3 separate regions of the Homo sapiens genome follow, and regions 2 and 3 are each linked to region 1. Evidence: fine-mapped expression QTL. A gene starts in region 1. Each other region holds a variant in brackets. All regions are shown on one strand. Distances are from middle to middle.

Evidence for each region. PIP is the estimated chance that this variant, and not a neighbour inherited with it, causes the effect.
Region 2: its variant is fine-mapped to the expression of SPON1 in blood mononuclear cells (TOPMed, PIP above 0.99).
Region 3: its variant is fine-mapped to the expression of SPON1 in atrial appendage (GTEx, PIP 0.96).

Annotation. Positions count from the first base shown.
Region 1 is chr11:13,958,318-13,968,941 of GRCh38, forward strand. SPON1 (spondin 1) reads left to right here and starts at 4,406. Exons shown (of 16, transcript NM_006108.4): 1 at 4,406-4,825. The coding sequence starts at 4,588. It overlaps LOC124902637 (a long non-coding RNA gene), which reads left to right and starts at 4,840. Exons shown (of 2, transcript XR_007062602.1): 1 at 4,840-6,728; 2 at 8,724-9,552. RefSeq lists an enhancer at 7,691-8,209.
Region 2 is chr11:13,927,939-13,937,250 of GRCh38, forward strand. No RefSeq gene overlaps it. Among named protein-coding and RNA genes, the nearest start is that of LINC02683, 7.7 kb to the left of the region's middle. The variant A/G (reference allele first, on the strand shown) is at 3,100.
Region 3 is chr11:14,021,540-14,032,163 of GRCh38, forward strand. All of the region lies in intron 2 of SPON1 (spondin 1), which reads left to right. Among named protein-coding and RNA genes, the nearest start is that of SPON1, 64 kb to the left of the region's middle. RefSeq lists an enhancer at 146-653. The variant C/T (reference allele first, on the strand shown) is at 5,394.

The DNA.
Region 1 (10,624 bases):
AAAATCCCACAAGGTAGGCAAGATGGGTATTACTATGTCCAATTTTGCACATAATCCGTGTAGATAGGTCCTGTGACTTTCCAAGACTGCACAGCTTCACATGGTGAAAACAGAAGAGCCAGCCTGGAACCCATGTACTTCAAGTCTGAATTACGGTCTAGGACGACGGTTCCTTAAACTTCAGTATGAGTTTTTCTTCAAAGTACAGATTTAGTAGGTCTGGGATGAGGTTTCGGAATCTGCCTTTGAAGCAAACATCTGATGCTCATGTTTCAATGACCATACTCAGAAAAACACTAATCTAGAAAATCCTTTTCCCCCTTCTCTCTTAAAGCGGGGAGAAAAAAGAGGGAGATCTTACCTCCTATGAATCAAAGGACTTTTCTCGCCTTGGAGAACTGGAGCCCCCAGCTCTTCTCTTCTGCGACCTACCCACACACACTGATAAAGTTAATTATCTGCCCTGGCTAAATGACTTTCCTTAGCAACACCCTAGCAACTGACATCAGCTCTGCCTTAGGCTACAAAAACTGGAAGGAGATTTCTTGAAGTCCAGTATATTTTACAAAAGAACAAAACATCTGAACAGGAAATTAAGGGGAAAGTAAACTGGATTCATTGCTAGGAGATGAGAAATAGACACATGAAATAGTTCATGACAATCCACTGGACCACAGTAGTCAAAATGGGAAACTTTTTCTCCTCCTCAGTTCTACTGAAGTCCACAGGAGGGGAGACTGCAGGATCTCATTCTATGGAGGAAAATTTAATCAGGCAGGAGGAGGGAGGGCATTCCAGGCCATGAGAAAGCTGTAAGCAAAGGTGCTGAGGCAATACTGAAGTGGAGGACACGGGGAGCCCAGCTGGGTGGTGCTGGGAGCTCAGATTGGGATCTATGACCAGGCATGACCAGATGGACACAGTGAGACCAGATTGTGGATGGCCTTAGAGGCCAAGTCTTAAAATTTGGGCAGAGTCAGAAGGCACTGAGGGTAGGCTTGTTAAAAAGTTTTTATTCAGAGAAAAAATATTTATGGAACCCCTACCAGGGGCCGGGCACTACGATGTGCACGGAAAATACAGTGGTAAGCCCCATAGACATCCCCTACCCTTCTGGAGCTTAGAATTTAGAATGGAGACAAATACTGAACAAATGTAAAATTTTAAACATCAAACTTATAAATCAATGGGTCATTATAAATCTTAATATTAAAAGAAGCCAGGTGTGGTGGCTCATGCCTGTAGTCCCAACACTTTGGGAGGCTGAGGCAGGAAGATTGCTTGAGCCCAAGAGTTTGAGACCAACCTGAGCAACATAGGAAGACCCTGCCTCAAGAAGAAAGAAGAAAGAGGAAAGGAGAAAGGAGAAAGAAGAAGGAGGAGGAGGAGAGGGAGGAGGAAGAAGGAAGAAGAAGGAGGAGGAGGAGGAGGAGATTAAAAGAAAAGGTACTCATGAGCTTCAGCAGAGTTTTGGGGGCTGGATCTATTCTAGGAAATCAGAAAGGCCTTCTTTGGGGAGGCAGTTTTGCACTGAGATCTGAAGAGTACATAGGAGTTGGCCAATGGAGAGTGGTGGCTAGGAGAGACCAAAGAGCATGATAGGATTCCAGGCAGAGAGAACAGCACAGGCAAAGCCCATGAGAGAAGAGCTGCATGGCTGGAGAAGCAGATCAAGCAGAGCCTTGGAGGCCTGGCTGAAGATTCTGTCTTTATTCTGAGAGCCCTGAAAAACCACCAAGAAAAAATGTTAACCTCAGGATTGACATTCAAATCTGCATTTTTAAAAAGATCACTTGGGCTTCAGTGCAGAAGACAGATGGAAGGAGAGCACAAGTAGACAAGGGCAACCCAGTTAGGAAGATGAGAGAGGATGTCAACACAGACAGGGGTAGTGGTGGAGAAGAGCGTGAAACTTGATGTGGTGATGGATCGGATGAGTGGAGAAGACAGCAGAGGTCTGAGTGACAGCCAAGCTGGTTTAGGAAAACCTAGCTCATGTAGTGGGATTGGAGCTTGGTGAGCTGGTTAGAGCCTGCCGTCATAGCCCAGATGATAGGGCGAACACTGTGTACTGGAAAGTACCTCATTTGGTGTTGGGGATGCCTGTTTTAAATCCTGGCTCTTTCCCTTAATAGCCATGGAACATTACCTCAGCAGGTAATTTCATAGGCTCCTAATCTGAACAATGGGAGTGCGGAGGTGAATTGGGACTGCCTACTTCCCATAGTTTTCCTGTCAATATCCAATAAAAAGTTAAATATTGCATTCCTGCCTACTTCATGCCCACCCATCTCCAACTTAGATTTGAACCTTTTGTAGATGAATAGAGGTTCAAGAGCACAGATTTGAGCTTTCAGACATAAAATAAGCTTTGTGAAGACAGGGGTCACAATTTATTCATTTCTGTAGTTTCCTGCCCTCTGAGATAAGATCAGGTACACTTTCAAGAACCACTTATTTTAGTTTGTAGCATACATCACAATTATAATTTTAAAAGATTCATATAATTATGTATTTAATATTTGCCTTTGCCACAGGCCTGTAAAATCCTCAAAGGCAAGTAACATATCTGTGTTTTGTATCCAAGCACTGAGCACGTGGAGGGTCTTTGTCATGAATGAATGGATGGATAGAAGGATGCATGGATGGATGGATGGATGAATTTTTGTTCCGTCTTCTACCTACCGGTCAGCACAGAGTCTAGCTCCAAATCTACACTTAATGAAAGTTTGCTGGATGAATGGGACCGTGCAACTTGGAGTGCAGCATGAGCTCTGAGCCAGTCGAGTGAAGATGCAGACAATTCCCTCAGCACTCAGACATGGATCTGAGCCTCACCTCAAAAAGGAGGGCCGATCAGCTGGATCAGGTGCTGCTAGGGTCAAGAAGGGCTAGGGATGAGAGAAGAGCATAATTGGCTTCAGCAAGGGGTTACTTTCAGGTGACCTCTGAGAGAAGGCGTCCAGTTAATAGTGGCAGTGGGAATTCCAGCACAAGCACTAAGGAGTAAGTGGGCAGGCAGGGAGGAATGGAGATCTCCCATGCACCTAGCGCCCTGGGCCTGTTTGTAGCATTATGAAAGAGAAAACCCTGACCTGGAAAGCAAAGGAGATTGCTTGCTAATTGTAGGCACTTGAGGTGTGTCGAAGGCCCTGGGCAAAGAGAAGACGAGGAAACCAAAGCTTCTGAGGGCACCTGGGGAGGGATGTTTGTGTGCACTGAGAGGCAGGGGGCTTATGGTATCCCCAAGCGGGTGAGGGAGCAGGCGCCACTAGAGACCAACTAGAGTGTTTTATATGGGTCATATCATTTACTTCTAGCATATCACCCCACTACCTCTAAGAAGGATGTACTGGCACCCACCCCCACTTCCTTGTTCTCCAGAGCAGGAAACAAGCTTGGAGAGTGCGATAACTAGCCCAAGCTTCACAATGGGTGAGTGGCAGGACTGAGGTTTGATTCGGGTCTCTTCCCAGAGAGACACTGGGAGAGATTCTTGCCCCAGGTCTTTTCCCTTCAGGCCCTCAGGCTCAGCACCTCTCTGAACATCTGTCCCTGGGGAGTGAGAATCTGAACTAAAATGTAAGCCAAGAAAACACAGGCTCTTCATTGAATCTTTGGAAACTCCTTTCCTGGGCTGTAGGAGGACCTTCCTGAGCCTTAGGCACTTTTGCCTTTGCTGGCTCTTTCCTCCAAGTCAAGCATATTTTATGACTGTGGAGGTATAAATACAAATATATTAACATTATATAGTAAAACATTTTGTTTGACATAAATTTTTTCTTCTGATTTTTACAGAAAACATTTTCATAGATCTCCAAAAGTATCGTGGGCCCTAAGCGCTGTAGCTAAGTCGTTTCTCCTTTCTCAGCCTCCAGTCTGACATGTTCCACTATGGCCTTGGGAAGAGCAATGGGCCCGGAGTCGCCGCATCTAACCCTGCTGTAACTGGTCGCAAGTCACAGTTTGCTCATCTATAAAGTGAGCGAAAGTAATGTAATCTTTATTGGGAGTAGGGAACATGAAGGCGAGTCGATACAGTAAGTAAGCCGCCAAGCATATTGCTAGGCACAGAGCAGGTGTGCAACAAAAGTTATTTCTCAGGCTTTCCCTCCTCTGAGCGCCGTCCTCCAGAGGGTCCGGAGTGTAGCTGGGGGTTGGAGCAGCAGCCTCCTAGGCGATGGGACAGAGCCCACAGGGTCCGGTATGCCACGGTTTCTTCGTCAGACCCTGGGAATCCAACGTCGCAAAATAAACACGGCCGCGCCGCTAATCGCCAGTTCGGAGGAAACAAAACAGCGCTGCGCTGGGGGATCTGGGCAAAATCAGCCCTCCCTCCTCCCGCTCCTTCGCCGCGGCCCTCCCCTCCTCGCGCTGCTCTCGTTCGCTTGGCTCAGCTCAGCTCAGCTCAGCGCAGCTCCGCGGCCGCCAAGCCGAGGCGGGCACGGTCTCCGAGTCGCGGACGCCAGCTCCGAGCTCCCTCTCTCCGCCGCGCCTCCGCCAGGTCGCGCCTTCGTCGGGACCACTTCGGGCAGGAGTCGCGTGGCGAAGGCCTGCGGCCGCGGCACAAAGTTGGGGGCCGCGAAGATGAGGCTGTCCCCGGCGCCCCTGAAGCTGAGCCGGACTCCGGCACTGCTGGCCCTGGCGCTGCCCCTGGCCGCGGCGCTGGCCTTCTCCGACGAGACCCTGGACAAAGTGCCCAAGTCAGAGGGCTACTGCAGCCGTATCCTGCGCGCCCAGGGCACGCGGCGCGAGGGCTACACCGAGTTCAGCCTCCGCGTGGAGGGCGACCCCGACTTCTACAAGCCGGGAACCAGCTACCGCGGTAAGTGGCCGCCCGGCGTGGCATTAGGAGAGCGGGACCCGGTCCCCGGAGGGCGCCGACCTCGCGGTGCCGGAGGAGGGCGCGCGGTCTCCGGGCGCGTGGCGCGGGTGCAGCCCGGCAAGGGCCCTTCTGTCCTGGCTGCCCTCGGCCCTTGCAGTCGCGAGCTCGGCGCGGATCATAATCCAGCGTCCCGGGCCGTCGCGGGGGCCGCAGCCAGGAGAGGCACCCCGCGTTTCCGACGCGCGGTTCCCAGGCGGAGGATGTAACTGAGCCACACGTCACGCCGGCCTGACTGCAAGGGAGGCTCGCTTCTCCCCCGGCCGTCTGCAGGAGGGAAGTAAAACTGCCTTTCTCCAAATCGGTCTGGAGGGGACCCAGGCTTCTCTTGGTCGGGTCCCGGGCAAGGCAGCCACTCCAGCTTTCCCCGCTCAGTCCCTGAAGGAGAGGGTACCCGATTCTCAAAGACTGGCCCTGGGCGGGACAGCCACTCCGGCTTCCCTGGATAGGTCCCTTCAGGAGAAGGGACTTTGGCTTCTCCCTAACCGGTCCCGGGGTGCGGGAAGGAGGGGCAGGGACAGCCTAAAGCTCCTCGAAAGGGTCCTTGGAAAGAACCCCAAATTATTCTCTCGTGGTCCCAGACGAGATAGAGTATCTTGGGTTTCCAGAACAGGTTCCCAGTGGGGACAGGGTCCTCAAAGAGCTTGGGGTAAGCTCCGAGCTGCAAGGGGAATTGGATGAAGATGGAAAGAGAAGCCCCGATGCCCGAGGCCTGCTCCCTGGAGGCCGGGGAACCTTGGCTCCGGCAGCTCGGAGTCTCCACGTCCCAGGGATGTCGCGCCTACGCCGCTCGGCTGAGAGTGGGGTTTCGGGAGCTCAGGGAGGAGGTGTCCAAGCAGGTGAGAGCCTCCTAGGCGGGACAGGCAGTTCGACCAGCACCGATCTGAAGACGCCTGACTCTGTCCCCACGCCCGCCACCTCGCTCCTCAGCAGGGTCATCTCCCCAGACATCGTTTCCCCGTGCAGCAGCAGCCGCTCTCCGGGTGGGGGACAGGTAACCAGGAAGGGAAGCGAGCCTGTCTGGCCTCACCTTAGCTCCCGCCAGGGAGCGTGTCCTCTCACCCTCGCCCCTTCATAAGTCAGCTCTGGTGCTAAGCAGGGATGAGCGGGTCACTGGGGCACCTGGTGGGGCAAATGGGCTCCCAGCTGCTGTACTTTCCTCCTCGCCTTCCCAGTTCCCCAGAGAGCCTTGGACGGAAGCGGTGGGAGCAACACAGGAGAAAGTCTGGGGCAGCGTCAGCGGGCGCCAGGGTCACGCCGGAGACCAAAGCCAGGGGCCACCCTTCTTGGAGCGCTTTTCCCCCTTTCCCGGGTTTGTGTCCCCGACTTTCTCCACCCGGAGCTACCCAAAGCCGGCTCCTTGGTGCCCTTGGCACCTTGGCGTGCTGAGCACTTTGCGAGGAACAGTCTGACCCCGGCGCGCAGCTCCGCGGGATCCTGGGTACTCCACGAAGAAAGATTCTGGGCGGAGAACACCCCGCCCAGCCCGGGAGGGAGCGCGCGGCTTGGCACCGCGGCTAGAGCGAGCCGCGCCGACGGGCGGCGACTGCCACTCGGTGCAGCCGGGAGGCGGCCGATCCTCCCTGTGGACCGCAGGGAAGCGGGTATGACTTCAGTGGCCTATTCGGCCCTCCCCAAAACTGAGGACCTGAGTTCACAGGGGAAACTGTCCCCGCTCCACGTAGCAGAGAAAGAAGTGGCTCTGGAGTCCAACAGACTTGGGTTTACTCGCTGTGTGACCTTGTGCAAGTCATTTAATTTCTCTGCACCTATTTCCTAGCTGGAAAAAAAAAAAAGCTGTTTATCCACCCTCTCTTGGTGGTAGGGAGTAAATGAGTTTACAAAGGTGAGTGTGCCTGAGCTAAAAGAGATTCCTAATAAGCCTAACAGTTGAATGTGAGGCCTTTATTGGTTTACTAATGGAGGTAGGTTCTTGATCAGATTTTTGTTTTTGAAGAGTGTTGTGCGTTTGAAAGCAGGTTTCCTCAGCTCTCCTCCAGTCCCATTCATCTACCAGTGGTTATTTGGGTCCTCATGAATTAATTGAATGAATGAATGAGGTATTTTTTCATATCAGGAGCCTTGCCTAAGACTGTTGCTAATGCAAGCCCAGGAAGATTTTTTCAGTGACTTAGACTAGTCTGAGGTTCAGGCCAAGTGTACCCAGCGTCTCTTTTCACACTAATCCTCCGTGTTTTAGTTGAGCATTGGCAGCTGGTGGCCCTAGCACTGGGAAGGAGATACAGCTGGTATTCACGGGGCCAAAGAGGTTTCAGAACTACCTAAACGTCCAGGGCCAGCAGGTGGGGAACTGGGACTGGATAGGGAGTGTCCTGGACTTTCACCCTACAGGCTACTCCTGCCTAAACAGCCATCTGGACTTTGACACCCCAACTCAGGCTATAGATTGGGCAATCATCTTTTCTCCCTTCTTATGGCTAAAAGACCTTGGAAGAGATCTTGCAGGAACCATGCTGAGGTTTTCCAAGTAAATATCCTGCAATTAGCAAACCTGATTCTGCCACTCAAAGTCCGAAAGAAAAGGTACTGGCCTAGTTTGTGACATTTTCTGTTGGCTCCTTCTTTCTTAGAATAATTATGTTAAAAGTAACTCAAACACATTCTGCTCATTGTCCTGACTTAAGGCTGTGAAGCTGGCATTCCCCTGGTGTTCTATTTGCTTTTTAATTTTTTCATGAATTAGGATTCCTCACAATCCTTGGAATCAATGACTTGTTTTCCTGCCTCAAATCTTTGTCCACAGTATTCCAGTTCATCCCCAAGCAGCTTCTGTTCTTTGTGCCTGCTGTCTAAGTACAGTCTTTAGGTACTCTAGACCGGAATAAAATGGTCACTATTAAAAAAGACTGAAACATGGAGTTTCTTCCCCAAAACCTGAATCCAGTTGAGATCATTATTTTGTCTTTTCCAAGTTGTTAGTATTATATTGATTTCCTTTTCTTTCCCACCACTTCTCTCTACTCTCCCTCCCTCTTCCCACAGTCCCCCCTCCCTCCAACGGCAATAATTGTGCTTTAGAAAGCTCTGAAAGGCCTGCTCTGTTTCTGGCCAGGGCCTCCTTTGAAAAGGAGATTACAGTGATTAAAAATAACAAGTTGAGGATCCTCAAGGGGCTTCCCTTATACAGGAGGACAATTCGCAGGACCAGCCTTTCCCAGATCACAATTTCAAGCCAAACAGAAGAAAATCCACTGAAATATTCAAGAATTGATTGAAAATAAAAGAGGCTCTTTTGTCTTACTGGAGGTCTGTTTATTAGGAAAATAAAGTCAGACTCTGGCTAATGAGAGTGGCTTTTCCTAGATGTATTTTAAAGAGACATTTCAAGGAACTTGATGGGAAAAGAATGTCCAGTAGAGGTTTCAAAAGCTGGTCCAACTTCAAGCATAATTGAGGGGTTTATCCTAAACTGGGAGGTTTGGAGACCTCCAAAGCTGCATGGTTTTTCCTTTGTCCCACACTGAGACACACACTGACCACAGGGGTGGACACCTCAGCCTGGTGGAAAGCGCACAGGCTTTGATGTTGGGTGGGTTGGTTTCAGGTCCTCCTTGGTCACATATTCACTGTGTGATCTCAGGAAGCCACTTCACCTCTCTGAGCCAATTTCTCCATCTGTAAAATGAGGGTGTTTTGATTTTTTCCCAGCATTCCTGTGAGAATTAGAAATAATTCATGTCAAAAGAAATTGTCACACAGTGGTTGCTAAAAAAATATGTTATGAGATGATTATTTTGGAAATAGAAAAATACTTAGCAGCAAAGCCCTGGATAAGATATTGTGTTAAGTTCTTCCGACTCATCTCACTTATTCCTTACAGTACTTTGAGGAAGTTTCTGATCGTTACTGTTTTATGGATGAGAAGACTAAACCTCAGAGAAGTTTATTCCTTATCCATGGTCACACAGCTAATAATCAGCAGAATCAGGATACAGTCTCAGGTCTGTCTGACTCCTAAATCTGTGCTCTTAACCAGTCTTATGTGCTGACTCAATGAAATTAGTTGGGAATAGAATGAAATTCACTCAGCTACCCTCAGCCTTCTGGATGGTGAGCCTTCCTTCAAGGAAAACAGAACAACAAATCAAGATAGTAACTGACATCTCTCAGGAGAATTACTTTATATTACTACAAAGTAATATAAAGTGATAAATCCTTATTCACATTTGCTGTTTTCTCTTATTGGCTTCAGTGTTGCATTTCCCCATAAACTAGAGGATTAATTTAGAAACATGAAGAACCTTGTCAGCCTTTGGCCAATTCCTTTTGTTTGTGGGGAAACAAAAACAAATTGGATAGGAAAAAAAAAACCCAGAAAGAAAAAAAAAAAAAGAAAAAACAGATTTGACTGTTGTTTTGTTTTTACATACAGATGTTATATGACCATGCCTGTAAAATTATATGTTTGGAAAGGACATATTTAGGCTCTAAGAAATTTACACAAGATGAGGTCTTTTAAATAAACTATTTCCTGGATGGTGGAGTTTTTAAAAACTTAAGTGCTGCTGATGATATTATAATTAAGCCACCCCTCCTACCTCTCTTCCCTTTTTTGCACCATTCCCTGCTTTTTTGTTATGTAACTATTTCTAACCATTACTTAAGTATTTAGTTCAAACTGATAATAAAAATTAGAAAATGCAAACATAGCTAATGCTTAATGGTTGTGGAGATTGTTTATTGCTCTGAGTTTTAGGAAATGAAAGAAATAAAAACATACAAAAAAGCATATCAAAATGGAATTTTTCAAGGTTTAAAACTTGAGTACTCCCCCATACACAGATAAGCTGTTTCATTACAGCTGACTCTTTCAGTTGCATCAAGAAGCTATAATCACTGATACGTTTACCACTATGGGCTGGTATATCAGGAGCTTTTCACTCTCACACTGTCCATTTGCTTGTTATACAGACTGTCACATATATATAGGTCAATATCAATTTCTGTTGTGAGGTGGGGGGACTCTTACCATGTTATATTAGTCATAGTACAGGCTAAGCTCATGTTACTAACAGAATCCAAAACACAGTGTTTTAAACAAGAGGTAAATGGGAGATCCAGCATGATGGGAGGCTTTGCTCCATAAGGCCATCCAGGAACCAGGCTCCTTCTACCTTGTTCCCTGACATCTTCTTGCACTCTGCTGTGTAGTTGGTGGCTACTTAGCCGTGTGTAGCTATGAAGTACTTGAAATGTGGCTATTCTGAATGGAGATGTGCTGTAAGTATAAAATACACAATGACTGTTGAAAATTTAGTATACAAAGAGTAAACTCATTAATTGTGTATTATTACATATTAAAATTATAATTGTATAAAGTAAAATACACTAGTTAAAACTAATTTTGCCTATTTTCACTTATGTTAATGGATACCTGGTAACAAAATTAATTTCACCCAGCTTGAGCTTATTTCTACTAAACAGCACTGTTTTAAGTTGCTGTTCTCCTCAGCACCGTTACAGCCGAGGAGAACCTCTGCACACCTGTATTCAGTCAGCATGCAGTGGACTGGGGGGAGAGGAAGTAGAGGACTTCAGTTTTCTTTTAATAATGTGACCCAGAAACTGCACCCAGCACTTCTAAACACACTCCGTTGGCAAAAATTCAGTCATGTGGTCATACCTAGCTGCAAGGAAGGCTGGGAAATATAGCATTTAGCTGGGTAGCCACATGCCCAGCTAAAACTTGAAGAATTTATTTTTCAAAAAGATGAAACAAAG
Region 2 (9,312 bases), 31 kb before region 1:
CACCCTCAAAGAAACTCCATATTTTTTAGTAATCAATCCCTTCCTAAACACCCCCATGCACCTAACCCTCGGCAATGAGTAATCTACTTTCTGTCCCCATAGATTTACCTATTCTGAACATTTCACGTAAATGAAATCTTAAAATATGTGGCCTTTTGTAATGGGCTCTTTCGCTAGGCACACTGTTTTCAAGGTTCATCCATGTTGTGGCATGTTTCAGTACTTCATTCCTTTTTATGGCCAAATAATATTCCAGTGTATGGCTATACCGCACTTGGTTTATCCATTCATCAGTTGATAGACACTTGGGTTGTTTCTTCCTTTTGACTGTTATGAATAATGCTGCTATGAACAATCATGAGCAAGTTTTTGCACAAACATATGTTTTTATTTCTCTTGTGTATACATATGCACCTAGGAGTGGAATTGCTGGGTCAAATTTTCTTGGTGTTTTAACTTAAAAACAAACCTTATGCCAAATTAAACTAAATGACAGCACTTTGTAAATAATAAATCACCTATAAAAATAAGGTTTCATTTTAACTATCTTGTAGAATATTTAATCTCCTAATTTATTCCAGTAATGTTGAATCCATTTCTACTGTGGACTTTGCACTGTGCTATGTGTTGGGAGTAAAGATTCAAAGAGGACTGAGACATGGATCCTAAACTGGAGGGGATTACTGTCTATACAAATAACTAACATACATTGGATCCTTACTCTAAGCCAAGCATGATACTAAATGTTTTATATGTATCAAATCCGTCACTAGTAATACTACCCTATGAGGTAGATACTATTATCATCCTTATTTTACAGAGGACTTAAGTAACCATCCCAAAGTCACACAGCTGGTAAGTGGCAGAGAACTGTCACACTTCATTGCTCTCCCAGGCCAGGCTGCCTCTCTAGCAACAGTATAACACACAAGAGTTAACAACGTGTCATCTGGAGTTAGATATCCTGAGTTTGAGTGCTACCTCCCCCACTTACCATGTGACCTTGGGCAAATGAATCACACTTCCTACGCTTCACATGCCTAATCTATAAAGAGAGGTTAATCCAAGAACCTACTTCATAGTGTTGACATAAGGATTAAAAGACATAAACATATATTAGTTGCTTGACATGTAGTTAGTGCTCAATAAATATTAGTTGTTGTTATTATCCATAAAAACTCTATAAGCAAATCATTACAAAGGCATGTGATACATTTTAAGGGCTGCCAAATGTCGCAATTTATCTCTGCTGGGAAGGAAAAAAAAAAAGGAAAAAAGGAAAACAAAACAAAACAAAAAAAAACCTCAGGCCAAACTGCAGAAAAGCGTTTGCCTCCTTTTACACGAATTCCATCCATTGACTTTAACAACTGAAGTCTTAAAAGCTGGATTCTGCTTATCTCTTTCGCTTCCATTTCTAGTGCTGTTGGGGAGCCTAATGCAGGGTGGTGATTTGTATTCTGCAAGTGTCTCTTGTCTCACCAAGAAAGGGGCCCATCTGTCTGGTCTTTGGGTGGGTTTGGAACATGACACCCAGGGGATGGGGGTGGCAGCAGAGGAATCAACCCAGGCACCCACAGAGGTGCCAACCAGGCAAGATCCATCCCTCTGCAGGCTCCTGTAAGGAGGGGAAAAGACAATATGATTATTCAAGGGAAGGTCTCATAGAGATGTGTGCTGCATTTAAACACAAATGCATTCTGTCCTCAATAATTTGGTGGAGTTGGCATAGCATTGGGGTCAGCCTGACACGGTATTGAAGAGTCCCAGGGTGCAATGTGACTTGTCACACTAAGTACACTTGTCTCCCACGGCAACAAGTTACTGGGCAGCAGGAGACAGCAGGGCTGGGAAAAGCATTCAGGGGAAGGGTCAACAGGGAGCCCTTCTTTGCACATTTATCCGGCCCCAGATTTGGCTGATGGTTTCAGAATGTGCTAAGTGGTCATCAGCATTCTCGGCTGTTCTAGGGGATGCAGTTAGTCGGGATTGGCTTCCTGGTACTTATTAAAGAAAAATCAGACATCTAGGGAACCAGGCCATGGAGAAGGCTAAGTCCAAAATAAGTATGAGCTTATGGAGACACACATATGAACACACCCCAGGACGACTCTCCTTAAGGATCTTTCAAACTCACATGTTAGATCCTAAGTCAATATTGATTCCCTTTCTCCCTGCTGTCCTGGAAGAACTCTGAGATACCTAAATGTATTATAGCTACTTGCTTACTTATATCTGTTTCTGCCCACTGACTTGTGATTTGGAGTGAACAGGGACTGTGTGTTATTCTTTTAGTGGTCCCAAGACCGTGGTACACGCTGAAAAAAAAAATGTGACTGAATAGAATTTTGGGAGTATATACAACCTTTTGCCCTGGAATTCCATTTAATTATTAGACAAAGTCTATGCAGACGGCTTTACTATTCCTACTTTAACTGGTGTGGAAACTGAGGTTCACAGACATGAAGCAACCTGCCCAAGGTCATGTGGTTGGTGGAGCTGAAATTGAATTTCACAATAAACGTCTGATGGGTGATTAATATACAAAAATCAATTAACCTATTATCACATTAAGACACTTACTAGGATGACTGAAAGAAAATGTCTGGAACTTCCAGAAAGTTCAATATTAATTGCCTTCAGGCCCATGGCACTGAGCTAAATGCCATGAAAGGTAATCCATGCAGATGGCCTGGCTCTCTATTGGATTTTTAAAAATAAAAACCTAGGCCAGGCAGGGTGGCTCATGCCCGTAATCCCAGCACTTTGGGAGGCAGATGCAGGAGAATCACTTAAGCCCAGGAGTTCAAGACCAGCCTGGGCAACATGGTGAAACCCCATCTCTACTAAAAATACAAAAGCTAGCCGGGTGTAGGGGCACAAGCCTGTAATCCCAGCTACTCGGGAGGCTAAGATAGGAGCAATCACCTGAGCCTGTGAGTTGGAGGCTGCAGTAAGCCAAGATAGCGCCACTGCACAATGTGAGTGAGACCTGGCCTCAAAAAAAAAATAATAAAAATAAAAAAGTAAAAACCATAAGTAAAGTATAATTATAGTTAAGAGGATGATTAGTGCCACAGTGAACTTGAATCAATTTGA[A/G]TATGGACCAGATGAGTGAGAGCTCTCTGAGAACAAGAATTGGTTTTTTTGTTTTGTTTTGTTTTTGTTTTTTAATCACTGTTGTCCTAGAGCCCTGCACAATGCTGGTGACCAACAAATGCTACTGAGATGGATAACGTATAAAGGTATAAAGGCTATGTAACCACTGGATCTGGATATAAAATGTCAATCAGTAGGATTAGATGAACAGGTTCTTTCTAGCTGACTTTCCCACCTGTGTGCCAGACCTCCTCTGCAAGATTCATAGGGTCTTCGTTTCATTGGCATATCCCTGGGGTTAGTAGCTTTGCCATAGCCATATAATAGGTGGTCCAGGTTGTGTTGTATGACCTCAGGAGTAGAGGGATGAGGGCATAGTTCGCCACAGCATTAAGACCACCTCTTCCCCTCTACCCTGGAAGTTGGCTGGAGGTGTGGAGAAATCAATGGACGGGTGAGAAGAAGATAGGGATAGAGGCCAAAGTTTTGTTCACAGAAGCCTGGGGGGCACCTCAGAGTCCAAGGAACAGCAATGGGAGGTTGATGCTTAGCACCAGAAGAGGGGGCTGCAGCTGGTGCAGCTGCTGCTGCAGGTGACATTGTTTGTGGGTACAAGATGGGAGCAGAACACTCTGTAGGGGAGACTAGAGCCCAGGCTAAGCGGAGGAGGACTGGTGCAGGGTGGGAGTTGGCCCAGGAAGAGCACGTACCTCAACAAAGGTTTGCCATGTGCTTAGGGGTGTGGACTGGAGAGAGTATGCTGGGGAAGAAGGGCGTGTATCATGGGAATATGGATAAGAATAAGCTCCAGGATTTCAGTCTACAGAGGAAAACAGACACAGACATGACCAACAGTAATTCTGCATGACAAGTGGGAAAAATAAAGATGGAATGAAGTAATATAATAATTTAAAAGAAGAAGCAGCTTGTGAAAGCTAGTAGGTACCAAGAGCCAGAGAGTTTTGGATTCAGATCCTAACTTACAAGGTGTGTGAGCTAGCACAAGTCATGTAGTTTCATCTAAGCCTTAGTTGCCTTGCCTATAAAACGTGTATAACAGCTTCCTCATAAGCGTTTGTAAAGATTAAAAGGAGATATATGTTAAGTGTTTAGCCCATGGCCTGGCATAATAACACTCACTGAAAATTAGTTGCTATTGCAACTACTACTATTTCAACTTCTATTTGCCAGGCACTGTGCTAAAGGCTTTTGTCTATGCTAGTTAATCTTTACATACACTCTGCTAGTCAGTTATTTTTATCCCATCTTTAATCAATGAGAAAATGGAACCCCTGCGTGTTTAAATAATACAGGTAGTATATAGCAGCCCTAGACTCACCTCGAGGCATGACAAGTTTCAGACACTCCACTCTAGTCACCATCCTGCTGCTTTATTACTACAAATATAACACTTTAAAATATATTCATATTTATACTACAAATATTTTTATAGTAATAAAATAGCAGGGTGGTGACTAGAGTGGAGTGTCTGAAACCGGTCAGTTTCCAATACCTATGGAAATTGCCTAGGTTAGTGCTTAGATAATCATCATAATAATAGCAACAATGAAGATATTATAATCATAATATATTTATAATTATTATATTATAGCTATTATTAAGCGTGTGTAATAATAATTACAGATTACTATGATTATTTTGTACCTAATTATTAGGCACTAAACTAGGTACTTTTCCTACATTGGCTCATTTAATCCTTGTAATAACCCTATGAATCAGAAACTATGATTTTCTCCATTTTGCAGATAAGATTAAGTGACTTGTCCAAATTGTCTAACTATCAAGTGGTGGAGTTGTACTTTGAAGTGGGTAGGGGAACTTTACTCCAGACTCTGTGTATTTTCTGACACTCCAGCCTGCTTAGTTTTAGTGGAAGCGTTTTTCCATCTCTCTAATTTGTCCTTTTTTCTCTTTTCTCTCTCCTTTTTCTCCTTCCTTTTCATCCTTGTCTCAAGGGAATTTCTCGTTTTCTTTCTTTTTTTTTTTTATATTATACTTTAAGTTCTAGGATACATGTGCACAACGTGCAGGTTTGTTACACATGTATACATGTGCCATGTTGGCGTGCTGCACCCATTAACTCGTCATTTACATTAGGTATATCTCCTAATGCTATCTCTCCCCCCTTCACCCTCCCCCCACCCCACGACAGGCCCCAGTGTGTGATGTTCCCCTTCCTGTATCCATGTGTTCTCATCGTTCAATTCCCACCTATGAGTGAGAACATGCAGTGTTTGGATTTTTTGTCCTTCTGATAGTTTGCTGAGAATGGTGGTTTCCAGCTTCATCCATGTCCCTACAAAGGACATAAACTCATCCTTTTTATGGCTGCATAGTATTCCATGGTGTATATGTGCAACATTTTCTTAATCCAGTCTATCATTGATGGGCATTTGGGTTGGTTCCAAGTCTCTGCTATTGTGAATAGGCCGTAATAAACATTTGTGTGCATGTGTCTTTATAGCAGCATGATTTTAATCCTTTGGGTATATACCCAGTAATGGGATGGCTGGGTCAAATGGTATTTCTAGTTCTAGATCCTTGAGGAATCGCCACACTGTCTTCCACAATGGTTGAACTAGTTTACAGTCCCACCAACAGTGTAAAAGTGTTCCTATTTCTCCACATACTCTCCAGCACCTCTTGTTTCCTGACTTTTTAATGATTGCCATTCTAACTGGTGTGAGATGGTATCTCATTGTGGTTTTGATTTGCATTTCTGTGATGGCCAGTGATGATGAGCATTTTTTCATGTGTCTTTTGGCTGGATAAATGTCTTCTTTTGAGAAGTGTCTGTTCATATCCTTTGCCCACTTTTTGATGGGGTTGTTTGTTTTTTTCTTGTAAATTTGTTTGAGTTCTTTGTAGATTCTGGATATTAGCCCTTTGTCAGATGAGTAGATTGCAAAAATTTTCTCCCGTTCTGTAGGTTGCCTGTTCACTCTGATGGTAGTTTCTTTTGCTGTGCAGAAGCTCTTTAGTTTAATTAGATCCCATTTGTCAATTTTGGCTTCTGTTTCCATTGCTTTTGGTGTTTTAGACACGAAGTCCTTGCCCATGCCTATGTCTTGAATGGAATTGCCTAGGTTTTCTTCTAGGGTTTTTATGGTTTTAGGTCTAACATGTAAGTCTTTAATCCATCTTGAATTAATTTTTGTATGAGGTGCAAGGAAGGGATCCAGTTTCGGCTTTCTACCTATGGCTAGCCAGTTTTCCCAGCACCATTTATTAAATAGGAAATCCTTTCCCCACTTCCTGTTTTTGTCAGGTTTGTCAAAGGTCAGATGGTTGTACATGTGTGGTATTATTTCTGAGGGCTCTGTTCTGTTCCATTGGTCCATAGCTCTGTTTTGGTACCAGTACCATGCTGTTTTGGTTACCGTAGCCTTGTAGTATAGTTTGAAGTCAGGTACTGTAATGCCTCCAGCTTTGTTCTTTTGGCTTAGGATTGACTTGGCAATGCGAGCTCTTTTTTGGTTCCATATGAACTTTAAAGTAGTTTTTTCCAATTCCGTGAAGAAAGTCATTGGTAGCTTGATGGGGATGGCATTGAATCTATAAATTGCTTTGGGCATTATGGCCATTTTCACGATATTGATTCTTCCTATACATGAGCATGGAATGTTCTTCTATTTGTTTGTATCCTCTTTTATTTCATTGAGCAGTGATTTGTAGTTCTCCTTGAAGAGGTCCTTCACATCCCTCGTAAGTTGGATTCCTAGGTATTTTATTTTCTTTGAAGCAATTGTGAATGGGAGTTCACTCATGATTTGACTCTCTGTTTGTCTGTTATTGGTGTATAAGAATGCTTGTGATTTTTGCACATTGATTTTGTATCCTGAGACTTTGCTGAAGTTGCTTATCAGCTTAAGGAGATTTTGAGCTGAGACGACGGGGTTTTCTAAATATACAATCATGTCATCTGCAAACAGGAACAATTTGACTTCCTCTTTTCCTAATTGAATACCTTTATTTCTTTCTCCTGCCTGAATGCCCTGGCCAGAATTTCCAACACTATGTTGAATAGGAGTGGTGAGAGAGGGCATCCTTGTCTTGCACCAGTTTTCAAAGGGAATGCTTCCAGTTTTTGCCCATTCAGTATGATACTGGCTGTGGGTTTGTCATAAGTAGCTCTTATTATTTTGAGATACATCCCATCAATACCTAATTTATTGAGAGTTTTTGGCATGAAGTACTGTTGAATTTTTTCGAAGGCCTTTTCTGCATCTATTGAGATAATCATGTGTTTTTTGTCTTTGGTTCTGTTTATATGCTGGATTATGTTTATTGATTTGTGTATGTTGAACCAGCCTTGCATCCCAGGGATGAAGCCCACTTGATCATGGTGGATAAGCTTTTTGATGTGCTGCTGGATTCAGTTTGCCAGTATTTTATTGAGGATTTTTGCATCGATGTTCATCAGGGATATTGGTCTAAAATTCTCTTTTTTGCTGTGTCTCTGCCAGACTTTGGTATCAGGATGATGCTGGCCTCATAAAATGAGTTAGAGAGGATTCCCTCTTTTTCTGTTGATTGGAATAGTTTCAGAAGGAATGGTACCAGCTCCTCCTTGTATGTCTGGTGGAATTTGGCTGTGAATCCCTCTGGTCCTGGACTTTTTTTGGTTGGTAGACTATTAATTATTGCCTCAATTTCAGATCCTGTTATTGGTCTATTCAGGGATTCAACTTCCTTCTGGTTTAGTCTTGGGAGGGTGTATGTGTCCAGGAATTTATCCATTTCTTCTAGATTTTCTAGTTTATTTGCATAGAGGTGTTTATATTATTCTCTGATGGCAGTTTGTATTTCTGTGGGATTGGTGGTGATATCCCCTTTATCATTTTTTATTGCATCTATTTGATTCTTCTCTCTTTTCTTCTTTATTAGTCTTGCTAGCAGTCTATCAATTTTGTTGATCTTTTCAAAAAACCAGCTCCTGGATTCATTGGTTTTTTGAAGGGTTTTTTGTGTCTCTGTCTCCTTCAGTTCTGCTCTGATCTTTGTTATTTCTTGCCTTCTGCTAGCTTTTGAATGTGTTTGCTCTTACTTCTCTAGTTCTTTTAATTGTGATGTTAGGGTGTCAATTTTAGATCTTTCCTGCTTTCTCTTGTGGGCATTTAGTGCTATAAATTTCCCTCTACACACTGCTTTGAATTTGTCCCAGAGATTCTGGTATGTTGTATATTTGTTCTCATTAGTTTCTTTGTTTTTTTTTTTTTTTTTTTTTTTTTTCTGAGGCAAAGTCTTGCTCTGTTGCCCAGGATGGAGTGCAGTGGCGCCATCTCGGCTCACTGCAAGCTCCGCCTCCCGGGTTCCCGCCATTCTCCTGCCTCAGCCTCCCGAGTAGCTGGGACTATAGGCGCCCGCCATCACGCCCGGCTCATTTTTTGTATTTTTAGTAGAGATAGGGTTTCACCGTGTTAGCCAGGATGGTCTCGATCTTCTGACCTCGTGATCCACCCACCTTGGCCTCCCAAAGTACTGGGATTACAGGCATGAGCCACCACGCCCAGCAGTTCTCATTAGTTTCAAAGAACACCTTTATTTCTGCCTTCATTTTGTTAGGTACCCAGTAGTCATTCAGGAGCAGGTTGTTCAGTTTCCATGTAGTTGAGTGGTTTTGAGTGAGTTTCTTAATCCTGAGTTCTAGTTTGATTGCACTATGGTCTGAGAGACAGTTTGTTATAATTTCTATTCTTCTACATTTGCTGAGGAGTGCTTTACTTCCAACTATGGTCAATTTTGAAACAAGTGCAATGTGGTGCTGAGAAGAATGTATATTCTGTTGATTTGGGGTGGAGAGTTCTGTAGATGTCTATTAGGTCCGCTTAGTGCAGAGCTGAGTTCAATTCCTGGATATCCTTGTTAACTTTCTGTCTCGTTGATCTGTCTAATGTTGACAGTGGGCTGTTAAAGTCTCCCATTATTATTGTGTGGGAGTCTAAGTCTCTTTGTGGGTCTCTAAGGACTTGCTTTATGAATCTGGGTCCTCCTGTATTGGGTGCATATATCTTTAGGATAGTTAGCTCTTCTGGTTGAATTGATCCCTTTACCATTATGTAATGGCCTTCTTTGTCTCTTTTGATCTTTGTTGGTTTAAAGTCTGTTTTATCAGAGACTAGGGTTGCAACCCCTGCCTTTTTTTGTTTTCCATTTGCTTGGTAGATCTTCCTCCATCCCTTTATTTTGAGC
Region 3 (10,624 bases), 63 kb after region 1:
CCCTGGTTTTGTTCAGCACTTCCCAAACAGGCTGAATCTGAGAGCCAAATCACATTTTAGAATTGCAGGGCATTTTGGTGCCATTGAGTCATTTCAACTTCAGAAAACCCAAGGCCCTGGAAGGAGGAGTTCTCCAAGTTCCTACAAGACCTGAGACGACCCTGCCCTGTGTTTCCCAATTCCTGCTCTAGTGCTGGCTCCTTCTTCCAAGGACTGAACATTGTAGATTTCTGATACACACGAAGTTGTTTTCAGAGGATGTCCATTCATTTGACTCCTAAGAAACCCAGTTCTCTTAAGCACAATTCAATGGCTTGCGTCTCTAAAGTTCACTGATCACCCATCGCTCTTGCTCTTTATTTGTAAAGAACAAAGGGACCAGGGATGTAATTAACTCACCCACATTTCCCATTGTCCTTAAGTCTTTTGTGCAAGCATTGATTGTTGTTTTTATTGTTGAAAGCAGAATTGTTCTCCTGGCAACACACATCCAGAAAGAGAGCCCAGTGAGGGACTCAGCAGGTGATGCTGTTGAAGTTTGACCTTACCGTTTGGAAGAATAAAAGAAAAAGCCAAAAAAAGCAATAATTGAGCAGAGGGTCGTTATGAATTGGTTACTATTCTATACTATTAAATGCTTTGGGAGAAAAGACATTTGGTTATTTTTAAGTGCATTTAGGAATTCAGAATATCAGCCAGCTGAGCTCCCAAGTACAGGTCCTCAGGGGATTCAGTTTAATGAATCTTTAAGAGCAGCCTGTTGTTAACATATTACAATTAGCACAGGTAAATGGAGGATTCGAATGTGCTTCTGGCAAATAATCTGTTCTCACTTTTATATCTTAGTCATTACTTACTCATACATTGATGTTTACTCTGAGGTTGTTTTGCTGGGAAGAAAGGATACACTTAGCAAAGCAAGATGATATGGCAGAAGAGAGCTTGAGATTTGGGATCTAAATATGACCGGGTGGAATATTGGCTCTGTTCATTAGTACAGTCGTGTGGTCCTCAGGAAATTGCTGAAATCCTCTGAATCTGTTTCCTCCTCTATAAAATGGGGATTATAAAACCTGTTTCAGTGGATTGTTCAGCTGATTCAACCAAATCATGTTAAAAGGGCTGCTGCATAGCTCAATAAACTTTAGCTTCTTTCCCTCAAAGTTAAGCTTTTCTTCCCTGTTCATCTAAAAAATCAAGCAATGAATTACTGAAACCTTTTCATAGGGAAGAGAAGGCAATGTTTTGGGTTCTTTACCCACATTTTGCCCATACATTCGACTTTATCCAAAGAACGCTTTGAGTTGCTGCAACCACCTGCACGCTGAGAAGACAAAGGTGAGGAGTAGGGTTAAAAGCAGGTTCATGTAGGTTCAACTGGAAAACCAGCTGCCACGGAAGCCTCAGGCATATCTAAATTTGTTCCTCCCTCTTTTCCTTCCTAACTCCTTAAGGTTTGTGGGCGGGATCATGTAGGATGACGACAGCCAAAGGGAACCATCCAAGGCTCTGAGGTGGAGGGAGCTCTGCTTGTTTAAGGAACTGGAGCTCGGTGGGTGAGACAAATGGTGGCAGGAGATGATGCCTGAGAAGTTGGCAGGGACCAGATTAGGTGGGGAATTGCAAGCTGGCATTATAAAGTTTGGATTTTAAGTGTAATGGAAAGCCACTGGAAGTCTTTAAACAGGGAAGTGACATGATTTATTATTTTAAATGTGCGCTCTGGCTTCTGTGGGAAGATTGGATTGTAGGGGCTAAGTATGGAAGCAGAGAGATAAGTTAGAAGGTTGTTGCAGTGGTTTATTGAGTTTGGGTGCTTTAGGGTGCTGGAGAGAAATACTGTGAAGGTAAAACTGACAGGCAGTCAAAGGTGAGGCTTAAATGAAATAACATAAATGAAGTGCCAAGTGTGTAGTAGATAATTAACAACACAAGTTCCCTCTCTTCGTGCTACAACTATATCAACAAAGTGATGTTTTTCTCTGGAATTGGATATAGGGAGATGATAAATTAATAACCACATTTTCTCAGCTATGGATTTGTTCTTTGGAGGTGGGCTGACTGGGAGATGGAGGTCAGCTTTTGCAGATCACAGCCTGCCAACTGGGAACACTTGCGAAAGGAAGAAATAATAGAAGCAGGAAGCAGGAAAGGAGGGAAGAGCAGTATGGAAAAAAGACTGGGCCAGGTGCGGTGGCTCACGCCTGTAATCCCAGCACTTTGGGAGGCTGAGGTGGGCAGATCATGAGGTCAAGAGTGCAAGACCGGCCTGACCAACATGGTGAAACCCCATCTCTACTAAGAAAACAAAAATTAGCTGGGCGTAGTGGTGGGCGCCTGTAATCCCAGCTACTTGGGAGGCTGAGGCAGGAGAATCACTTGAACCCGGGAGGCCGAGGTTGGAGTGAGCCAAGATTGGGCCACTGCACTCCAGCCTCGGTGACAGTGCGAGACTCCATCTCAAAGAAAAAAAAAAAAGACTGGAAGGAGCAATTTGGGGACCTTATCTCCCTCACAAGGCATGTGACAGTGGTATGGCTTGGCTGCTTCAGTGCCCTAGTACTCAAACCCCTAAAGGGAGAATGCAGATGGACAGGTGCAGAGGTCATGGGGAGCACTTTTGGGCTTCAACCCCACGGCAGTATCTTGGGGTGAGTGCTTACGACTCTTGAAGCCCCAGTGGGTGTGTGTTACAGTGTGCTCTTTCTGCTTTGCCATCTGCAGGTGGCTTGTGTTAATCAGCTCAAGTAGACCCTCTGCCTTATCGCAAGAGCAGAGGGCTTTCTGTATCCTGAGTTCTTGCCCAGTGTACCAGAAAAATTTGATCACAGGTGGGCTTGGTGCAAGGTTCTGTTGAGTGGTGGAGGTGGCGCTCAGCAAGATGGATGGGGGGCCAGAAGAGGGATGGAGTGGGAAGGTGGTCTTCCCCTGGAGTCAGGCTACCCAGTGGCAGACTGTCCTCTGATGGCCCCTGGCTGAACTCCCCTCAGAGTCCGCATTGTTCCACCATCGCTGGTCTGCCAGTGTCTGCTGGTGTGGTCCTCTGCTCCTCCGATGTCTAGCCGCTTGTGTGTGTGCCTGCTAAGGTCTCGGGTTTATATGGGCACAGGATGGGGGGCATGGCTGGCCAGAGTGGTCTTGGAAAATGCAACATTTGGGCACAAAAACAAGAGTGCCTGTTCTCTCTTAGGTCCATGGGCACAGGCCCAAGGGTGGAGCCCCTGCCAGGGACCCCACTCTTCTCTACCCAGGGCTTCCCTGCCCTACTTCCGCATCACTGAGAAATGTGAGGACATTGGTGTGTGTGGAAGGTGCTGGCATAACAGCTGGAGTTGCATCCTTCAAGTGACAATATAGGTATATCAGGGCAGTCTGCTATGATTAGAACTGAAAAGAATCTGGAGGCCATATCATCTGAATTCCTCATTTTAGGAAACTGATCTCTAGAGAGAAAAAGTGACTTGGGCAAAGCCACAGAGATAATGGCAGAGGCAGGGCTGGTAGCAAACTAGAGTGGGAAGAGATTGAGTTTTAAAGTAAGAGACTGGGGGTGCAGTCATTTATTCAGCAAACATGTACCAAGCTCCTGTTCCATGTCAGACCCAAGTCTAGGCACCGGGAACACAGTCAAATAAAACAGACAAGGCTCCTGCCCCCATGGAGCTTACATTCTCATTCCTCCTCTTACAGACTCTTCTGAGACTACCATGGCAGTCCACCTAGTTTGCCTTCATGAATCGATTTCCTCTTCTCTAAAAAGGGAGTAGCAATACCTCTTTAATTTTAATTAATTCATTTATTCATTCTACAAATATTGATCAAGTATATATGATGTGCCAGGCACAATGCTAGGTGCTGGTGACCCAAAAGTAAGCAAGGTAGAACCAGCCCCTGCTTTCAGATATGACGAACTAGAGGCAAGATGGTTGTCATCTTAAATGTCCATCAAAATCACCTGAAGCCCTTAGGAGGTCACTGCTGCCCTGGCCCCATGCCTGGAGCTGTCGATTCCACTGCTCTGGGGTGGGGCTAGGCATCACTATTTTCACAAACCTTCCAGGTGGTTCTTATAGGGGTGGGGTGAAGAAGTGCTGGAGAGGCAAAGATAAAGGGTCATGCGGGTGGTGGTTTGGCAGGTGGAGGGTGCAGCCTATCAGACCTGGGTTCTTGGGGCTGGGAAATGCTTCCCAGAGGAAGTGACTCATCAGGTGAGACCATGAGTAGGACTAGTCCAGGAACAAGAAGTGGGAGCAGTGTCTGGGAAGGCCAGAGCCCCCAGAGGTTGCTCTGAGGGTAAAAGGGGTAACAGAGGTGGACCATAGTCCGTGGTCAGAGACAAGAACTATGCCATTGTTCCTTTGCCTGTTTCTCTCTCTTTGTTCTTTCCAGCCCCACTCCCTTCCTGTTATGTTCTTTATCCTACAATACACCATACTGACAGCACAACAGCTGATTCTCCAGCTCCTAATAATTATCTGAAAGAGCTTCCTCCTGTCATCCATCTCATGTCCACTGCTTCTCTGCAAGGCAGGAGCCAGCCTCCGGCTCCCTTCCCACAGCTTCCAGCTCAATTGCCTCCCTACAGCAGAGGGAAATGCTCTCTTTGCTGCATGATTTGATCAGTGTATTCCCCCCAACCCTCCACCTTCAGGTGCACAAAGACAAAATGCATTCTCTTCAGATATTTGATTTGTTTTGCAAGTAAGTGCTCAGTACCCACCAGCTGATAACCACATTGGATGTGTTTGACAAATAGTCCTTGAGTGTTACCATAAATCTATAACTTGATGAGAGATTCTTATTGTCAAAATATAATTAGATCAAAGTTTGGTATTTCCCAAGGGTGTAAGGAAGTTCATGGATGTGTACCATATTCAGTAAGATATACATCTGTGCATGATGTCTGCCATTGTCACTCTAAAACAAGAGGGAAATCTGACATGCTTTTACGTCCTAAAGAAGGAAGATATTCAGTGACTTGTTTAAGTCTCTTCTGAAATAACCCTCAGCAGAGCCTGAGTTTATTCTCAAGGCGAGGGGGTGGGGGAAACGGGGTGCACAAACAGTTTTGATCCCATGCCGATGTCTGCTGACTTACGCAGAGAATACAACAAGCTTCAGGGTTAAGGAAAGGATAACAGGGAGGTTGAGAAAGAAAAATCAGTCTGCTGGAAATGTCATTGTCTTAAGCGAGGGTGGAGGAGAGTTGGAGAGTCCTTCTCTTCTATGTATAATCTTCTCAATGCATTGTAAAATGTTTTAAAGGGATTATATTATTTCTCCTGCCTGTGAGGTTACCCCAACTTGTCTCCTCCTCTCTCCCCATTTTTCCCATTTTTGGCTCTTTTGACATGTAAGTGAGACCAGAAACAAAGGCTGTCATCTCATCCAGG[C/T]AGCCATTTGTCCACACTTACCAGTAAACTGAATTTGCCAAGAACTCCCACTCTGCAGTCTCTGGGAGAGGCAAGATGATAAGCTTGTGCCTCTGATAAAGCCTGCAGCCTGGGATGATCTGGGCTGAGTGGGGAGACTGAATCCATGGGAAACTGCATCCCTTGAGGAGACTCGTCTGGACTTCTCTCTGCCGGGAGGCACTGGCGTTGTAAGAAATGAAGGAATGGGGTCAGGGGTGGGGAGCATCCACAACTCAGATGTTTAAAGAGCCAGAGCTGCAAACAAAATCTGGCTAGGAACAGTTTTCTTCGACTGACCTCACTAGATGCCTCTTTCCAAAATTCCAAGCCCTCTTGGGGCACACGGGGTCTTTCTGGAAGTTGGTGATGTCGTGGAAAGGTCACTAGGTTTGGATCCAAACTGCCTAGTATGAGTTTACCATGAGCTTCAATAATCTGATCAAGTTCCAACATTCCTCTGAGCTTCAGTTGCTTCTGTGAGATGGAAAACACCATCCCTTCTCAGGACTGTCAGGGACTTTAAATGAGCTGACATAGTTAATACAAATAAACCACCAGCACAGTGACTGGGACACAGAAGGACCTCAGCAAACTGAGTTTTTGCTCCTTTTTCCTTTGCTAAATGAAATCAAACCATTGCAAACCCCATTAGTGTATAAGAGACATTCATTTGTCCATCCCTGAAGGTGTAAGCACAATATAAAAAGGCTTCCCAAACTACTCAGGCGGAGCAGGATAGAGAGATGTATGTTTTGCTGAGCTGATCATAAATCTGAATGAAGTAATTATGTAAAGTATTCAAGAGCAATTCAGTAAGAAGATGCCTCATCTGCCTTGATGGGCTTTTCAATTACTCATTTTTAGTACTGCATTATACTGTTCTCTGGCAATAATTATTAAACATTTCAACTGTACTGCTATATAAAACTTAAAAGGCTGATTTATTTCCTAGGCATTAGACTACATTGAATAAAATCCCCCAATTACATGGTTCTATTTTTTAAAACCTGTTTATCAGTGATTTTCTAGTATTGAGTCAAAACTGACAGCAGGTCCTCATGTGAAAAATAAGGGTACAGTGTGTTAAATCCAGCGGTTATTAGCTTTGGGGTCATGGAGGATATTAATACAGACCCCCTACTTGCTAGTCCCAGTTTCTGAATCTGTAAAATGGGGATAATTCCCACTTCACTGGATTATTGTTTGAAATAATGGATACAAAGTGTTAGCAAGAATGTAGAGTCTGTGCCAGGTTTGGTGGCTCACACCTGTAATCTCAGCTCTTTGGGAGGCTGAGGCAGGAGGATTGCTTGAACCCAGGAGTTTGAGACCAACCTGGGCAACATAGACCTCATCTCTACAAAATATAAAAAATAAAAAATATTACCTCGGCATGGTGGCGTGTGCCTGTGGTCCTAGCTACTAGATAGGATTGCTTGAGTCCAGGAGTTCAAGGTTATAGTGAGCTATGATCTTGTCACTTCACTCTAGCCGGGGCACAGAGTGAGACCCTGTCTCAAAAATAAATAAAAATAAAATTTTAAAAAAGAATATAGGGTATTTACTTATTAAACACTAGATATTCTGAGATTCACTGGCATTTACATATAGCCAGTGAGAATCTTCCCACTTATTCAGTGTATATGCATCAATCACCTACTAGGCTCTAGGCACTCAAGATGCCACCAGGGCCCATTCTCTGATTGTCACTTCAATGACTCAAAGTCATGGTCATCAAGCATCTAGCAGCTCCAGGTCCCCTTCTGGGCTCTGTACACAGGACATCTTTCATCATGTGTAGCCATTTTCCACATAAGGATGTGTACTCACAGAGAGTTGGGTGACTTTACTCAAGGTCATTCAGTAGCTAAGGCAGAAATCAGACCTATGTCTGCTGGCTCCAAAGTCCACATCTTCTCTCCCCACTACCCCATGCTACCTCTCAGGATTCCAGGAGCACATTTCACCTGGTTTGAAGGATAATTCCTCCTCCTCTTCCTGGTTTTTCTAGAGGAGATAGCTCTTTTCTTATTGAGGATTACCCACCCCTGAAAAATTACCACTTTCCCGAAGTCTGTCTCTACTTTTCTCAGCATCTTCCAATTCTCACCTGGAAGATGAGGCTTTCTATTCTAACTGAGGACTACACCATGATTCAGGCAGTGACCCCTACACACACACACACACACACAAGCATGTGTGTGCCCAGTTCTACTGGAGCCTGTCCATTGTACTTGAGGCTCCCAAGCCAAACTGGATTTAGGTGCAGGCCAGCTGGGCTGGTACCCTGGATACCAGTCTGTAAAGAGAACTAAAATGCTGCTGGAAATGTAATACAGTGGAGAAAATGGTCTTTACCAGAATTGTTGAGAGCAAGCGGGACACGAGAATGATAATAATAATATTTATCAATGCACAGTGATTATAATATACACTGATAGTTTTGTTGATAAACTTTCTCCTTAGTTCAGCCAAAACCGGGCTCTTGTCACATGATCAGGAAAAGATTAGGCTTGTGGACACAGAATGGTGAGGAAAACAGAATTTATTGGGTGAAAAGGAAAAAGGAAAAGCAACTCTCAGCAAAGTGAGAGAGTCCTCCTATCAGGTTTCCCGCCTCACACGTTGAATCCCAGGTCACCACATAGCAACGGGAGAGGCCAGGCTCCTCCCCACTGAACTTCCTGAGGCTCCACCCCATTCTCCCAGTGCTCAGGTGGGCGTTATTCAGAAAGAATCAGTCAGGAAAGGGTGGCTTCATCCAGGAAGTGTAGTCAGGTTTTTCAGCCTTCAGGCTGTTTTAGGTTTAAATATGGAGTTTTGCTGGGGACCCTTGGCTGCCTCCTGTCTCCACTGGTTTTGTGCCAGAAGCTTCTCTAACAACTTTGTATATGAATTCATATAAACACTTCTGGCCCATTGAGGTAGATGCTATTATCAGTCCCCATTTTACAGATAAGGAGAATCAGTCCAGAAAAGTTAAGGAACTTGCCAGAGTCACACCAGTAATAAATAGGCTGCTGGACTCTCCTAGGACTTTGTATTGTCTCCTGGTAGGGGGAAAACCCCCAAGAGCACTTAAGTGACAAGAGCTGGTATCTCAGTGACCTTCCAGGCCTCTTAGTTGCTGGGTGAGGTATGCAAGTTTAGGGCAGCAGTTGAACTACTCAGGTTAATAGAGTGAGCAGTGCTGAGCTGGCAGTCTGCCTGCCCTCCTCCCACGCAGCACTCAGCCTATCCTCCAAATGAATGTTGGGCAAATATTTAGAGAATATCGTTTTGAAAGGGGGCCAGGTTATTAGCCTGCCCAGGGCGCCTACGCATCTTGGCCCAGCCTTGCTCCCAAGCCTGGCCTGCTGTCTGTGCTCCTAATATGTGAAACAACTCACATAGCATGGAGGATTAATCTGCTTTTGGGGGAGAAATGCAATCTGGTGTTTCTCAGGACTAAACTTCTGTGGATTGGATGCCACATGCCCGGTGCCAGAGGGTCCGCCAATGGTGCTCGTGGCCACGTCACCTCCCCCACAATCCCACGTGCTTCTCAAGTCTGGAAAGCACAGGGTACACTCCCGGGAAGAGAAAATAAAGCAAGTGAGATTTTAAAAGATGAATAAGATGGAGGTAAGAATCCGTTTGAAGAGATGCTAATGCAAAAAGGGATGCTAGTTCAGAGACATGCAAATCAAAACTACAACGAGGCACCACCTAACAGCAGTCAGAATGGCTGTTGTTAAAAAGACAAAAAATAACAGATGCTAGCAAGGCTGCGGAGAAAAGGGAACACTTGTACACTGTAGGTGGGAATGTAAGTTAGTTTGTCCACTGTGGAAAGCAGTTTGGAGATTTCTCCAAGAACTAAAAACAGAACTAGGATTTGTTCCAGCAATCCCATTACTGGGTATATATGCAAAGGAAAATAAATTGTTCTACAAAAAAGACATAAGCACTCATATGTTCATTACAGTACTATTCACAATAGCAACGACATGGCATCAACTTAGGTGTTTGTCAGTGGTGAACTGGATAAAGAAAATGTGGTACATATATACCATGGAATACTACATAGCTATAAATAATAAAATCTATCCTTTGCAGCAATATGGATGCAGCTGGAGGCCATCATCCGAAGCAAATTAACTCAGGAACAGAAAACCAATACCACATGTTCTCACTTGTAAGTGGGAGCAAAACACTGGATTCATATGGACATAAAGATGGAAATGATAGACACCAGGGGCTACCGGAGCAGGAAGAGATTAATGGGGAAAGGTCTGAAAGACTACCTTTTGTGTACTGTGCTCACTACCTGGGTGATGGGATCATTCGTAACAAACCTGTACATGTACACCCTGAAGTTGAAATTATATATTTTTAAAAAGGATGCTATAACTTTTGTGAAAGTTAGGCTGGAAGATGGGGGTATTTGTAGGGAAAAGGGACAGGATTTAAGCCTAAATCTTTACAGTTTAGAAGAGAGGCCACTGACAAAAAGTACACTGAATAACGCAGTCAATGCAGCCATTCAAATTATGTTTCTGTTAAGTTCAGAAAAACCTGGAAAAATATTGAGGCTCCTAGGACAAATGGAAAAAGAAACAAGACACATTATATAAACAAAATCAGTACCGCTATTAACAAATTTTAAAGAATACATGGAGAAAAGGCTAGAAGGAAACAAACCAAAATTATTCAAACAGTGGAGGATTTTTTTTTTTCCTTTACTTTTCTGTCCTGGTTAACGTTTCTATGATAAACTTACTTTTTAAATCAATAAGGGCAAAATCTGAATTTTAAAAAATCTATATTGAAAGCCCTTTCATAAAAGACAAAAGCAACTGTCTTTCCTTCCATGGCTTTCAGATTGAAAAAATACACGTAGGAAACTAGTAAGAGGTGATTCAATGACTGGGATTATTTTCTTTGGATTCTCTCTCAGGTTTTACTGAAGTAGTTAGAAAGCCCTTCCTGGGCAGATTCAGCAATAATAAACTACATTAATTTCATTTCCAGAAAAAACTTAAGATGTCAAATTTAGCTAAGGGGGATCATAATAGCCCCAAATTATAAACAACAAAATGTTCAACGTGCTGAGGTTTGTTAGGTAAAATGTGGACCAAATAAGATGAGGTATTATGCTGCCATTAAAAATTTTATTGGGATTGTACATTAAATGGAAAAGAAATATGTTCGTGATATGGTGTGAAATG